Homo sapiens: one gene and its partner. The protein of the gene in region 1 binds, or shares a complex with, the protein of each later gene. Each region holds a gene or a part of one and is shown in the gene's direction. Other genes may lie near its edges.

Evidence for each region. The genes of interacting proteins can lie anywhere in the genome.
Region 2: PARD3 (region 1) and PRKCZ share a complex: the UniProt entries of both Homo sapiens proteins name them as parts of the par polarity complex.

What each region holds. Positions count from the first base shown.
Region 1 is NC_000010.11:34,378,293-34,385,331, reverse strand, and holds part of PARD3 (partitioning defective 3 homolog), read left to right. Parts: intron 1-1,077; coding exon 1,078-1,203; intron 1,204-2,409; coding exon 2,410-2,792; intron 2,793-7,039. UniProt on the Homo sapiens protein: Adapter protein involved in asymmetrical cell division and cell polarization processes. Seems to play a central role in the formation of epithelial tight junctions. Targets the phosphatase PTEN to cell junctions.
Region 2 is NC_000001.11:2,165,410-2,172,448, forward strand, and holds part of PRKCZ (protein kinase C zeta type), read left to right. Parts: intron 1-2,881; coding exon of another isoform or gene 2,882-3,158; exon of another isoform or gene 3,159-4,041; intron 4,042-4,084; coding exon of another isoform or gene 4,085-4,108; coding exon 4,109-4,195; intron 4,196-6,645; coding exon 6,646-6,781; intron 6,782-6,891; coding exon 6,892-6,979; intron 6,980-7,039. UniProt on the Homo sapiens protein: Calcium- and diacylglycerol-independent serine/threonine-protein kinase that functions in phosphatidylinositol 3-kinase (PI3K) pathway and mitogen-activated protein (MAP) kinase cascade, and is involved in NF-kappa-B activation, mitogenic signaling, cell proliferation, cell polarity, inflammatory response and maintenance of long-term potentiation (LTP).

The sequences.
Region 1 (7,039 bases):
AAACCCCAGCTCTACTAAAAATACAAAAAAATTAGCTGGGCATGGTGGCGCATGCCTGTGATCCCAGCTACTCAGGAGGCTGAGGCAGGAGAATCGCTTGAACCCAGGTGGTGGAGGTTGCAATGAACCAAGATCATGCTATTGCACTACAGCCTGGACGACAAGAACGAAACTCCATCTCAAAAAAGAATAAAATAAGACTAAAAAAATAAAAATAACAGCAATCAGAGCTAGGTTAAGACCCCTGTTGCTTATACTGTGATTTAAAGAAGTATTTCTTATTTGTCCCAGTCTGTATAGAATGTCCTGTCAGTTATGAAGTTAGTGTTCTAGAGCAAGTAGGGGGTCTCTCAAAGGTCATTCACACTTTTCTTTCAACCTGAGTGAGTACATATGTGGAAGAGATGAATGGTGATTGGCATTATTTGAACCTCTCACTGACGTTTTTCTGTTGGGTCATTTGTTTTTCCAAATGGGAATATTGACAATAAATGACTTACTTTTGGGAGACCTGACAGGTTTTGAAATTCACAATACTAAGCACTATCAAATTCAAATGCAAAGCATGGAAACTCCTTTATTCCTGAAATCTTTCCTATTATCATTCTCAAACCTGCAGTGCAATGAGGTTAGCTTTTCCTCATTACCTTTACTTTCACAGAAAGATGGGAGTTGCAGTCGTCTTTTAAGCTAGCGTGCCAGCTGGCTTAAAACAGAAAATTGCCCAAGCCATTCAAAAATACATGCTTATCCATCCTCCACACTGCAATACCCACTCAACCATTAGGCGGGCTCTGTTTGGGGCATTTGTAAACAGAGAGAGTGTTATAGCTTGTTCTAGAAACATAATACTGACCAGCCAGAAACTGATTTTTTACATTTATGGAAGGGATGCATTTTTACATGTCATTTTAACGTTGTGGTTTTTGTCTGTCATTTAAAAATGTATGAATAGTCATTTTAACATGCTCCTTTGTAAGGACATCTTTGTAAATATAATAACAGCATTAAAGTGGTAAGGCAGTGTGCATGGTGGAGATATTACATGTGTAATCATTTGCATTCTTAATGTTCCAGAACCCTGGGGTTATTAGTAAAACGATTGGAGAAAGGTGGTAAAGCTGAACATGAAAATCTTTTTCGTGAGAATGATTGCATTGTCAGGATTAATGATGGCGACCTTCGAAATAGAAGATTTGAACAGTAAGTGTGTGCTCGCTGCACTTCTGTTCTTACTTGCATTAGGCATGACAGAGTGCAGTCAGTTGAAATGCTTCAAACATGTCTGTGATCTCAGTCTGTATACTGGAGAGGAATATTTTCTGCCATTAGCTTTTAAAAATTTAAACATACTCAGTAATTAATACCATTAGACTATATTTCAAAATGTCCTCTGATGGATATAGCTCTTCTTAAGTATTATGGCCCCCATTTCAACTTTACAATTTTGCTGGTTCCTCTCCTTTTGGAAAATTGACAGTGTGCCCATTTTTATCATACTTTAACTCACCCGTCCACCTTTGCTGCACACAGTTTCTCTAGATACAAACAAGCAGATAAAGCTGTTTGTATCTGCTTGAGGTTGTATTCAGATACACTTTATCTTGGGTTGTATTCAGATACAATATTGGGTTGTATTCAGATACACTTTATCTTGATTCAGGCCCTTAGTCAATGAAAAACATAACAGTTGGCCAGTTCTTATAAAACAAGGCAGGAGCAAACAGAACTCTTAAGAACTTGAGGTCCTGACCAGGGAACCAGCATGAGAAAGAGCTGCTTCCCAGGCTGGTTGTATGGGTGCACTGTGACCCACAGCTGTCAACATTTTGAATTATTGAGCCTGGATTGCTGTTCTTGAGATTTTTACATATACCAACTTAATAAATAATTAATAGTTACTTTCTATAGTCTTCTAAGTGTGTGTGTGTGTGTGTGTGTATTTTAAAAATTTTAAATACACATCTAACCCAATCCAATATTCTAAATATAATTATAAAGCTCTGTCTTTCTTTGAAAACTTAAATTGAAGTATTTTGTAATGTCTACAAGTTGTATTAGACAATGTTGTAGAGAGAATGTTCCATTTGGTTTCTATTATTGAAATTATAATACTTGTTATACTTAAAACATGTTTAATGATTTACAGTTGAGAGGACAGAATTTTATCTGTAGTTGTAGATAATTTTTCTATTTTTATTGAGAGAATGAGAAATTTATATTTGAAGAAACAGCTATTGATAGATCAGAGCTGCAAACTTGATTGATAAATGGGTTATTAGAATTTTGCTTTTCAATTTCAACAGCCTGTCAGTTCTTATTGCTTAATTAGTAAACTTAATTAAGCTCATAATATCTTCTAGTCTGCCAGTCTTAATTTGCTAATTTTCTATTCTTTCTCAAACCCAGAGCACAACATATGTTTCGCCAAGCCATGCGTACACCCATCATTTGGTTCCATGTGGTTCCTGCAGCAAATAAAGAGCAGTATGAACAACTATCCCAAAGTGAGAAGAACAATTACTATTCAAGCCGTTTTAGCCCTGACAGCCAGTATATTGACAACAGGAGTGTGAACAGTGCAGGGCTTCACACGGTGCAGAGAGCACCCCGACTGAACCACCCGCCTGAGCAGATAGACTCTCACTCAAGACTACCTCATAGCGCACACCCCTCGGGAAAACCACCATCCGCTCCAGCCTCGGCACCTCAGAATGTATTTAGTACGACTGTAAGCAGTGGTTATAACACCAAAAAAATAGGCAAGAGGCTTAATATCCAGCTTAAGAAAGGTACGACCTATCCTGTTTTTGTTTTGTGGAATTTCTTTTCTTAGCAGCAACACACAAGGGTAGAAATGGAATTTATTTTAAAAGTCAACCTACTAACCCAAAGCACCCTGAGTCTTATCTAATTATTTTGTGAAAGAACTGATAGATTTTTTAAAGTTACTTACCTTTTAACATATTTCAAATTGTATTTCTTATATGTCTCAGGTTTATTTTGCTCTGTAGAAATTAAAATGTAAAAGTGCAGAGAATAAGACTATGTCTATGAGAAGAAGATAGCAGTTACTGTAGTAAAATTTTTGATTGTGAAAGAAAATGGCTTCAGGACATTAATATCAAATGCAGAACAATAGTAAGGATTTGACCATTTTGACTGCCCCATTTGCTGTATAAGTCCAGCCCTCAAGGAGGACTTTAGAGGTAGTGCACGTCAATCTCAGTATTTGATGTGGGGAGGGACCAATTTGTTTGAGGCTGCCAGGAGTTTATAGTAGGTTGCTGAGAAGCCAGGCCATTGACTCTTGTCTTTTGTTTTCTTGTATTATTGCATTACTTCCCTTTCTTTTTTTTCTTTTCTTTTCCTCTCTTTTCTTTTTCTTTCTTTTTTTTTTTTTTTTTTTTTTTTTTTTTGAGACAGGGCCTTTCTTTGTTGCCCAGGCTACAGTGCAGTGGTGCAGTCATAGCTCACCGTAGCCCGCAACACCCCATGTCAGCCTTCCAAGTGCTGTGACTAGAGGCACATGCCGCCATGCCCATCTCATTTACAAATTTTTTGTTGTGTTGGAGTCTTGCCATGTTGCCCAGGTTGATCTGGAACTCCTGGCCTCAAGTAGTCCTTCTACCTCGGCTTCCCAAAGTGCTGGGATTATGGAAGTGAGCCACCATGTCCAGGCCTGCTTCTCTTTCTTATGGTGATGTGGAAGTCATGATGTCGATTGCCGATTCTTCATACATCTTCCATCCATTATGTATTTTAGTACCCTTCCTGTATACAGTGGATCTCTGTATAGAGAGCATGTTCTTGCAGTTTGCCTCCTTCAAAGTTGAGTGCAAACTATTGGACTTGACTTTATGATTTTCACCCAATGTTTCGTCCAGGCACCAAGATACACTTTTACTGTTCCTGATCCATTTTAGCTGAGCATTTTGATATATTTTTAAATCATGTCTTTCAAAATGGTATTATTATAAAGAATATTTTTTTTTATAGGCTCAACCATCAACTCTTATAGTTGGATGGAAATGATTCCAAGAGAGGTTCATTATTTCCTCAGGTCATGTGGCTGTTGGCCACAGATTCTTACTAGTATGTTTTCCATATCCGGATATTCAGACCATTCTTCTTTACATTTGGGGTAGCATTTACAAGGTTGTAAACTCTGAGACTGCTGTTTCCTTTCTAACTCATATTCTTTCAGTGAACTTTATGTGAACCTCAAGTTTCTTATTTCTGGTTACTGGTTTTTAAGCTCTAAATACTTGGTTGACATGATCAGGAGTTGACAGCTTGCCTCGTTGCAAACACAGAGTCATATCAACAGAAACCCCTTTAGCTCTGTCAATTCCTAAATGAGAGAAATATCACATCCTCTTTCCTCCTTTTGCTCTACTTAAATGACAGGCCCTTGTTTTTAACCAAAAACATATCAAGAACTACAAATAGAATCGTATAAAAAATAAAATTCTGCTTGATATCTCTAAACAAAGGTACAGTATTTTGCTTCACCATTGTCATAAAGATACTGGTTCATAAATATCTTTTCCTTTTTACACTGATACAGCAATATTCATTTAGTTAATTATGGTTTTTCAAAAATTAGGATATTTGACAAATCATGATATAACATGAACTTTTTAAATGAGGTGATTTGCCATTAAAAGTACCATTGTTTTGCTAATGAAAGAATGAGAAATACAAAGGAAATCTGAAGTGAGAAGATAAAGGTAAAGTATTAAACAGAATACAGATTCTCCAAAAAAAGGAAAATAATGAGTATATCTAATTTTTATGTTATAGTAAGTCTGAAGTGATAAATAAATCAAATTGATACATTTTACTTACAAAACTGGTACCATTGTTTTGAATACAGATATTATTTTAATAGCATTTAATGAAAAATATGATTGCATTTACACAAGCTAATTTAGAAAGACTATGCTTAATCACTGAAAGGAGAAACAATGGTTTTAAGTGTTTTTCAGACCTTGAGTAATCTTAATGATATAGAGTCCCATAGATCTATCTTGATTTTAATTTACCAACTGTGAGAATGTATGACAAAAAGCACATGCTGCTTGTGCATGCTGCCAATACTTACAAATATTTTATATAAAAATTATGTTTACTATAAATGTGGGGAAGAATGCTGATTATCTTTGATTAGGACTAAATGCATATATTTTAATAATAATGAATGTAGGAGAATTGAACAGGCTTTCCTTGTAGCTAGCAGATTTTTTTCTTACAAGTTATTACATTTATTAGTGAAGTACATTAAAAACATAGGGTGTGTCAGTGTTAAACTTCAGATTCAGTTCAAAGTGAGCTAATGTGCTTTGAGTGGCAGCAGTTCTTCAAAAACTGGAATCAACTCTTAGTACAAAAAAAGATGTCAGTATAATTATTCTTTGGCCTAATTTTGGAGCTATGTTATATAACATGACAACAGAATAGCCTCAGTGTACTTGCTTCCATAATTATGATTTCTTAATATTTATTGCCATTTTGGTATTCTCAAATACCCAGCTCTTTTGTAGAAATTAGCTTTTTAATAAAGTCAGAGGAGAAGGTCAGTAATCTGTTTCAGTCAGTGCAGAATGTTTTGTTGGCTTTGTTAAATGAAAATTGATATCTACTTATCTTTCCTTGAAAGGTCATTGCCTGAACTTTTAGCTTACAGATTTAGGGGTTGTTGCTGATATTTTAATAGTATTGAGGTTCCTACAACAGTCAGCATTCATAGTTCAAAAAAGTTAGTATTGCAAAAGGAGAGTAATTAAGAATTCTTTCTTAATAAATGTTATTGCAAGTCATTAGAGTTTCATGAAAGCAGAGACATATGGAAAAATCTCCCCAGAGCAATAACAAACATTTCATATAGACAGTATGCCATTCAGGTGTTCAGCATGGAAGACATCAGAAATATTAATAGTCCAAGCACCCTAAAGTGACTTCAGACTAAAGTAAATGAATGCTTTGTTTGATGTTGAGAATAACTATGGTAGGTTTTGCTACAGGAATAACTATGGAGTGTTTTCTTTATTTCTCCTTTAATGTTTCTTTAATCTACATTTTTATTCACCCTTTTTTGTTCACTTATATTTTATACTTTTCATTACAGTTTTATACTGAGTGATGTATCAGATTAATGTGCTCTTTTCTAGATTTTTCACCTTTACAGATCTCTTTATTCTTCCCATAATGAGCAAGCATTTGCCTTAACAATATTTTAACTGAAATGGAAACTAATATCTTAAGAAGTAACTTTTTAAAAAAGCTTAGGTAGAAATCATTATTGTAAAAATGTTGTGATTCATTACAAATGTATCATTATCTCCCCAGTTTTTCCTGGGCACGTGTTGGCTTCTTGCGTCTTGATTCTAGTGACATATAAACACTTTTCTGCTTTGTATTGAGCATGTAAGACTGTCTGTCAAGAAAGCTGCCAAAGAAATGAGAATTTAAATTCTGTGAATCATCAGAGTAATTTATAAATGCATCATTAATTTAGTACCTTTAAGCATAATATGATCCCCAGATTTGGTAGCCATGATCTGAGATGGAGTCTTCACTGAGTAATTTGCCTTGTTTGGGAGTGGGGGGTGGTGAAGGAAATATACATGGTAAGATTTAGGTGAATTAGAAGTGAACTAGGCAAAGATAATTTGGTTTATGGTTTATCCTCTTAGTAAACTGCTTTGAATAATTATGATTTTGGGAGGTTCCATTACCTCTATCTAGAGATACCTCTCATTTCACTGTTCTTTTCCATCTCCCTGGACATTTTTGTTTCCCTTGCTCATACCTCCTACCCTTAAAATTTGGATGTCATTATTGCACAATAATACTTGAGTTTTGAGGTACTGTGGGTCTTAACAGAAGTTTTTTTCTTTCTTCATGTAGTGAATTTCCTATTCAAAGATTTACATTGATTTAAAAACTTTTAGCAGTCATATTTACATATTAACTTTCATCTGTCTTTGAGAAGATTGCTGTTTCTTCTTAGATTAATAACTGTTGATATGTAAAC
Region 2 (7,039 bases), on another chromosome or scaffold:
TCCCCTAACCTGTCTGTGCCTCGGCTTCCCCATCTGTAAAATGGCGAGAGCTGAACTTACTTCCTGGTGATGGGGTCAAGTGCGTTAACACAGAGGGACTTGGAGACTGACGCTTACTGAGGGCCACACCAGCGGTCAGCAAAGGTTGTCTTAAAGGGTCAGGCAGTAAATATTTCCACCTTTGTGGGCCATGCGGCCTCTGTGGCAACTATGCGTTCTAAAACAGAAGCAGCCTTAGACACTGCGTGAAGGGACGCGTGTGGCCGTGTTCCACCAGAACTTTCTGTACACACATGGTGGTGGCCCGCCCGGACCCATCTGGTTAATTCTTGACTCTCAGGGCAGCGTCTCCTGTGCCTCCAGGAGAGGGCTGTGGTTCCTCCCTCTGAGCCGGGCACCTTGCATTCCTGGAAGGGGTGGGGGGAGTGGCGAGGAGGGGGCGGCACCAAGGACAGGGCCCACCTCCTAGGAGGTTTTGTGAGCTTCCCTCAGCCCCCGGCCGCCCCCTAGGAGGTTTCGTGAGCTTCCAGCATCCCCCTGCGGCCACTGTCCCTCCATTTCCCATGTCTGTTGGATGGTGCCGGTTCCAGGGCAGGGTCAGGGACTGGATCCGGCTGCGGTCTGCGTCTCGCCTGGTTCCTGAGAGCTGCACTTTGTCTTTGGTTGTTGATGAATCCATTTTTGCTGGCGTTCTTCACGTTTGTGTATTTGATTAAGTATCATGGACAGGCATGTGCAGTGGCTCACACCTGTAATCCCAGCCCTTTGGGAGGCTGAGGCCGGAGGATCACTTGAGGCCAGGGGTTCAAGACCAGCCTGGGAAATATCTCGAGACCCTTTCTCTACAAAAAATTTAAAAATTAGCTGGCGGTGGTGGTGCAAGCATGTGGTCCCAGCTCCTCGGGAGGCTGAAGCCGGAGGATTGCCTGAGCCTGGGAGGTCGAGGCTGCAGTGAGCCATGATCACACCACTGCACTCCAGCCTGAGTGACAGAGTGAGATCTTGTCTCAGAAAAACAGCCCCGAGGGCACGTGTCTCATGACTCCCGCCTCCCGCCTCCCATCTGGGCTCTGCTTGCTCCTCTCCCCTTGCAAACATGAGAGGAGCGTTAATGCCAGGACAGGGAGCAGGGAGGGGCATCCCCAGCGCCTCCAGGCCACAACATGGCGAGTGTGGCTACCAGGACACGGAGGGGCAGCCTCAGCCCCCTCCCCCAGGCCACGACATGGCGAGTGTGGCTACCAGGACACGGAGGGGCAGCCTCAGCCCCCCCCAGGCCACGACATGGCGAGTGTGGCTACCAGGACATGGAGGGGCACCTTCAGCCCCCCACCCCCACCCCCAGGCTGTGCTTCCCAGCATCCCTTGGGGTCAGGACTGTGTGTGTCACTGAGGGGCTACGGGTGAAGCCACACACGCCCCTGGCCTGGCCTTGCGCCCCTGCCTGAGAGCCTCTATGCAGGACAGCGCCTGTGGGGCACCCAAGTGGGCCGAGCCCATGTGGATTACAGGTGCACACCACCAGCGTGAGGAGAGGAGTGGGCTCGGAGCATGCTCAGCCATGGTCCCAGGCATCTTGTCAGCAGCCAGCTCAGCTTGTGTCACGCAGAGTCGCCTTAGAGTGAATTGACACCAGATTGTCCTGGTGGGTTTTTGCTCTGAAGAAATGTCAAAAGTAGCATTAAGGTTTTTCTGTAGACAAAAAAACCCCACCATCATTGCAGCTTGAGCAGTTGCAAATTAAATAAATTCCTTCCTCAGCAAGCTGCCTGGGTCCTAGGCCTTGGGCAGAGAGAACTGGCTTTCAGCACAGTTCCCGTGATTGGCTTTTCTCTGGAGAAGAAGGGGAAGCGGCCTCCGCCTCTACCTCTCTAAGTGTTTAAATGTCCCCCAAATTCTCTCAGCCTCCTGAGGCATTGTATTGATGCTTTTCTCTAGAATTCATGTATTTCTTTATTTTCTCTGGAAATGGCATTGGCTTTGTCCCCGTCCTATGGGCCGTGATAGCTTAAAGTTAGGATGAACCCACAGAGGCCGTGGAGGCCCTTCCCAGGCGCCGCAGCAGCACTGTTGGGGTGAACGTGGCTCCTCTCGGGGGGACAGGTGGAAGGGACCAGCACCCATTGGGGCGTGTAACTCCTGGTGGCAAAAAATGTGCGGTGAAGTCACCCTAAGGGTTTTTGTGGTTTTTTGTATTTTTATTTTATTCTTTGAGACAGAGTCTTGCTCTGTCGCCCAGGCTGGAGTGCAGTGGCGCAATCTCAGCTCACTGCAGCCTGTGCCTCCTGGGTTCAGGCGATTCTCCTGCCCTCAGCCTCCCGAGTAGCTGAGATTACAGGTGCACACCACCAGCCCTGGGTCATTTTTGTATCTTTAGTAGAGATGAGGTTTCACCATGTTGGCCAGGATGGTCTCGAACTCCTGACCTCAGGTGATCTGCTTGCCTTGGCCTCCCAGAATGCTGGGATTACAGGCCTCGTGAGCCACCACGCCCAGGCACTCTAAGGGTTTTGAATAAATTCTTTCTTAACGTTTTCTGACCGACTCTTAGGTCGTGGGTGTCCTCCAGGGGTTGGAGGCCTTCATGGAGCTTCGTTCCGTGGGGTTGACGTTACTGAACGAGTCCCTCCACGGGTGCACTGAGGACGTTCCTGCACATCGAGGGCACCCTCAGAGCTGCTCTTTCTGTCATTGCTATTTTGTTTATACCGGGGATTGGCAAACTTTTTCTTGAAGGGCCCAAGAGTAGACATTTTTGGCTTTGCGGCCACAGGGTCTCTGTTAGCAACTCCCTCTGCCACGGTGGCTGGAAAGCAGACATAGAAAATAGATGCACCAGTGAGCATAGCCTCGTTCCAATAAAACTTTATTTACAAAACAGGGAGCAGTGGACCAGCGAGTCCCCAAGGACAAGGGCCAGGTTACCAGAGAATTTCCAGGCACATCCGTTGGAGGCAGGGGAGACAACAAAAGCCGAGGAACGAGCCTTCCCCAGCCGCTCCCCAAAGGCACGGCTTATTCTTCAGGGTGCCCGACTGGCCACGTGGACGTCTCTCCAGCTCCTCACTTGGGGCCCAGGGCTCTTTCGATTTTTAGGAGTTTGTTTCCAATCAGAAACTTCACAGATGATTTGCAGCCAGTTCACCTGCCCTGTGTAAACTGGCCTCTGTCCTCTCTGGCTTAATTCTGGGAGCTTGTGGAGGGCAGGAGCAGGGACAGGTGCCTTGAGGCGTAACAGTGGCGGTGGTGTGGGAGCTTGCGTGGGATCGAAGGAAACGGGCAGAGTCACCACACGCTTCCCTCCTTCACTCCCCGCTCCACGAGGGGCAGCCAGGAGCAGCCACCAGTCGGAAGCAAATAAACAATTCAGGTGCCAGAGGAGCCGCTGACCTAAAAAAACCCGCCACAGGGTATTTCTGGGAGATTGTATGAGAATTTAATTTTGAAAATTGAGTCTCATGAAATGTAGGAAAAGATCTTATTAGGAAGAGAAACCATGTGGCCCAGTCCCTGAGACGGGAAGGGCCTGCGTGGTCCTGATGACATCTGCGGATCTTTTAAAATCATACGATCATGTCTGCGAAACCGGGATGCCACTTCCCACCTGGCTTCTCCCTGACCCCAGCTTGTTCCCTTGGAGGGCCGGTGGACTCCTCAGCCTTGCAGCAATGAAATCAGGCCTTGAGGCCACCCCACCCGTGACCTGCGGTGCTGTCCCCATGCAAGAAACTGCCTCGCTCCAGCCCCCAGCAGATCCTGTCCCAGCCCCCAGCCCTGGTCCAAGCCACCTCCACTCCCACCTGGTGACGGGCCACCTCCTTCATTCCGGGGCCCACCCACACTTCCCAAGTCCACACACAGTGGCCAAGAGTGAAGGCCGGCGAGGCCCCCGCATGACTCCCTCACCTGCACCCTTCACGAGCGGCCCCGCAGCCCGTCCCCACCAGCCCCTCTCTGCTGCCAGGGTGCTCCTGCTGCTCTTTGCTCTTTGCAAGACTGAACCTGCGGGAGGGTTCGGGCCCACGAAGGCCGCTTCTGTGGGGCTTCTGTCTAAGGAGGCCGCCGTCTGCCGAGGTGACTGCAGCCTCCGGCGCCTCTCTCCCTGCAGGTTGTTCCTGGTCATTGAGTACGTCAACGGCGGGGACCTGATGTTCCACATGCAGAGGCAGAGGAAGCTCCCTGAGGAGCACGCCAGGTGGGTGCGCGTGGACGGGGCCGGGTGGGTGCGCCCGGAGTTGGGGATGGGTGGGTGCGTGCGGTGTTGGGGGGCTGGGTGGGTGCGCACAGAGGGATGACGGGTGGGTGCGCGCGGAGTTGGGGGGCCGGGTGGGTGTGCGCAGAGGGGAGGTGGCTGGGTGGGGTGTGCACGGAGGGGGTATGACGGGGGCGGGGGGGGCGGGGTGCACGTGGAGGGGGCCGGGGACCTTCTCCAGGGGTCAGCAGGGAGCTCAAGGGAGGGAAGTCCAGGTAGGATGGCAGAGGGCATCATGTCCCCCACAGTGTGACGTCCCCTGCATTGTGACACATTCCATATTTGCTCCAGAGTCACAACATTTGGGAGGTCTCCTGAGTTATGGTGCCTCAGACCAGTCCCCCAGGCCCCACCCCTGAAGCAGCACCATGCCTCATCCGAGAGAAGTGAGAGTCTCCTGGGATTGTGCTGTCTTCATGGTGGCTCTGCCCTGGTTCTGCTCTTCACCCTGTTAGTGGCACAGCATGGCCAGCATTTCCTCAGCGTTAGGAGCAGAACGAGAGTGGTCTGTTTCTAGAGTGACCTGAGAGACTCCTTCCTGCCCTTCCCTTTCATCTCTGATATCTTCGGGCCTCCCCTGGCAGCCGAGGGGCCTCCAGCATGGTTCAGGAGCCTCCCCCGGCAGCCGCGGGACCTCCAGGACCGTTTGGGGGCTTATTTCAGCTCCCTGGACCTTTCCTGTCTTTTGTAGTTTCTCCTTTTCCTCATTTCCTTACTTAAGAACGTTGCATGCAGTTTTGTGAGTCACCTTAGATTGTTTCTGGCAATAGGACAGTAGGCAATAAATCTAGAACAGTACACTTCCCACAACGCTGTTTTTAAAAACTGTGGCAACACACAACATAAAAGGTAGCATTTTGGGGCATGGAATTCAGTGGCGTTGAATGCACCCCATGCTTTGCAGCCACTGCTGGCCCCCGTCTCATCTCCAGAGCACGCCCCTCTTCCCTGCTGAAGCTTGGCCCATCAGACACTCCCTCCCTGTCCCCCGCCCCAGCCTCACATCCTCACCCCAGACGGGCACGTCCCACTTTCTGTCCCTCTGATTCGAGGACTCTAGGGACCTCATCGGAGTGGAATCACAGTGTTGGTCCTTCGGTGGCTCATTTTCCTGAGCATAGCGTCCTCAAGATTCATCCGTGCTGTGGCCTGTCTCAGAATTGCCTTCCTTTTTCAGGCTGGATAATGCCCCGTTGGATGGAGGGGCCACACTTTGCTTATCCGTCCATCCCTCGGGGGGCACTTGAGTGGCATCCACATGTTGGCCATGGTGAACAGTGCTGCTGTGAACATGGGTGTGAAGTAATCTCTTGAACACCCTGCTTCCGGTTCTTTGGGGTATACACCCAGAAACTGAATTGCTAACCACATAAGAATTCCATATTTAGGCCGGGCGTGGTGGCTCACGCCTGTAATCCCAGCACTTTGAGAGGCCAAGGCGGGCGGATCACGAGGTCAGGAGATCGAGACCATCCTGGCTAACACGGTGAAATAACACAGTGAAACCCTGTCTCTACTAAAAATACAAAAAATTATCCAGGTGTGGTGGCGGGCGCCTGTAGTCCTAGCTACTCGGGAGGCTGAGGCAGGAGAATGGCGTGAACCTGTGGGCAGAGCTTACAGTGAGCCAAGATCGCGCCATTGCACTCCAGCCTGGGTGACAGAGTGAAACTCTGTCTCAAAAAAAAAAAAAAAAAGGTCATATTTAATTTTTTTTTTTTTTTGATGGAGTCTCGCTCTGTCACCCAGGCTGGAATGCAGTGGTGGGATCTCAGCTCACTGCAGCCTCTGCCTCCCAGGTTCAAGTGATTCTCCTGCCTCAGCCCCCAGAGTAGCTGGGACTACAGGTGTGCGCCACCATACCCGGCTAATTTTTTTGTATTTTTAGTAGAGACGGAGTTTCGCCATGTTGCCCAGGCTGGTCTTGAATTCCTGACCTCAGGTGATCTGCCTGCCTCGACCTCCCGAAGTGCTGGGATTACAGGTGTGAGCCACCAAGCCTGGCACCGTGTTTAATTTTCGAGGACCTGCCGGACTGTCTTCCGCAGCAGCGGCGCTGTTCTGCACTCCTACCACAACGTGCCATGGCTCCGGTCTTTCCCGCATGGAAGCTGTCGTGTTATTTGCCCGCTCCTCCCCTTGTGGAGGCTGCCACATCGTTCTCTGTGTCTTTGACAGCAGGCCATCCTAAGGCGCATGGGGTGGTGTCCTGGAGCTTTCATTGGCATTTCCCTCCCTGGCCCTGTGCACTGCACTTTCAAATCCTGGGCCTGGTCATTGAGAGGATGCCGGGCCCGTGGTGGGGCAAACGGGAGTGTGTGGCCCCCAGGCTGGAGCTGTTGGCGCAGCCTCTGGCACAGGCACTGCCCCCATGACGGCATCCCCACCCCCAGGTTCTACGCGGCCGAGATCTGCATCGCCCTCAACTTCCTGCACGAGAGGGGGATCATCTACAGGGACCTGAAGCTGGACAACGTCCTCCTGGATGCGGACGGGCACATCAAGCTCACAGACTACGGCATGTGCAAGGTGCGTGCCTTGGACCGCCTCCCCTGACCATCCCGCATGTGCGTCTCGGGGCGCCTGTCCCGCGGGGTAGTGTCTACAAGAACCCTCTCCCAGTAACTTTGCCCCCACAGGAAGGCCTGGGCCCTGGTGACACAACGAGCACTTTCTGCGGAACCCCGAATTACATCGCCCCCGAAATCCTGCGGGGAGAGGAGTACGGTGAGTGCCGCTGCCCTGGCCCCTCTCGGAGCACACAGGGCCAGAGATGGCTTCGGGCCT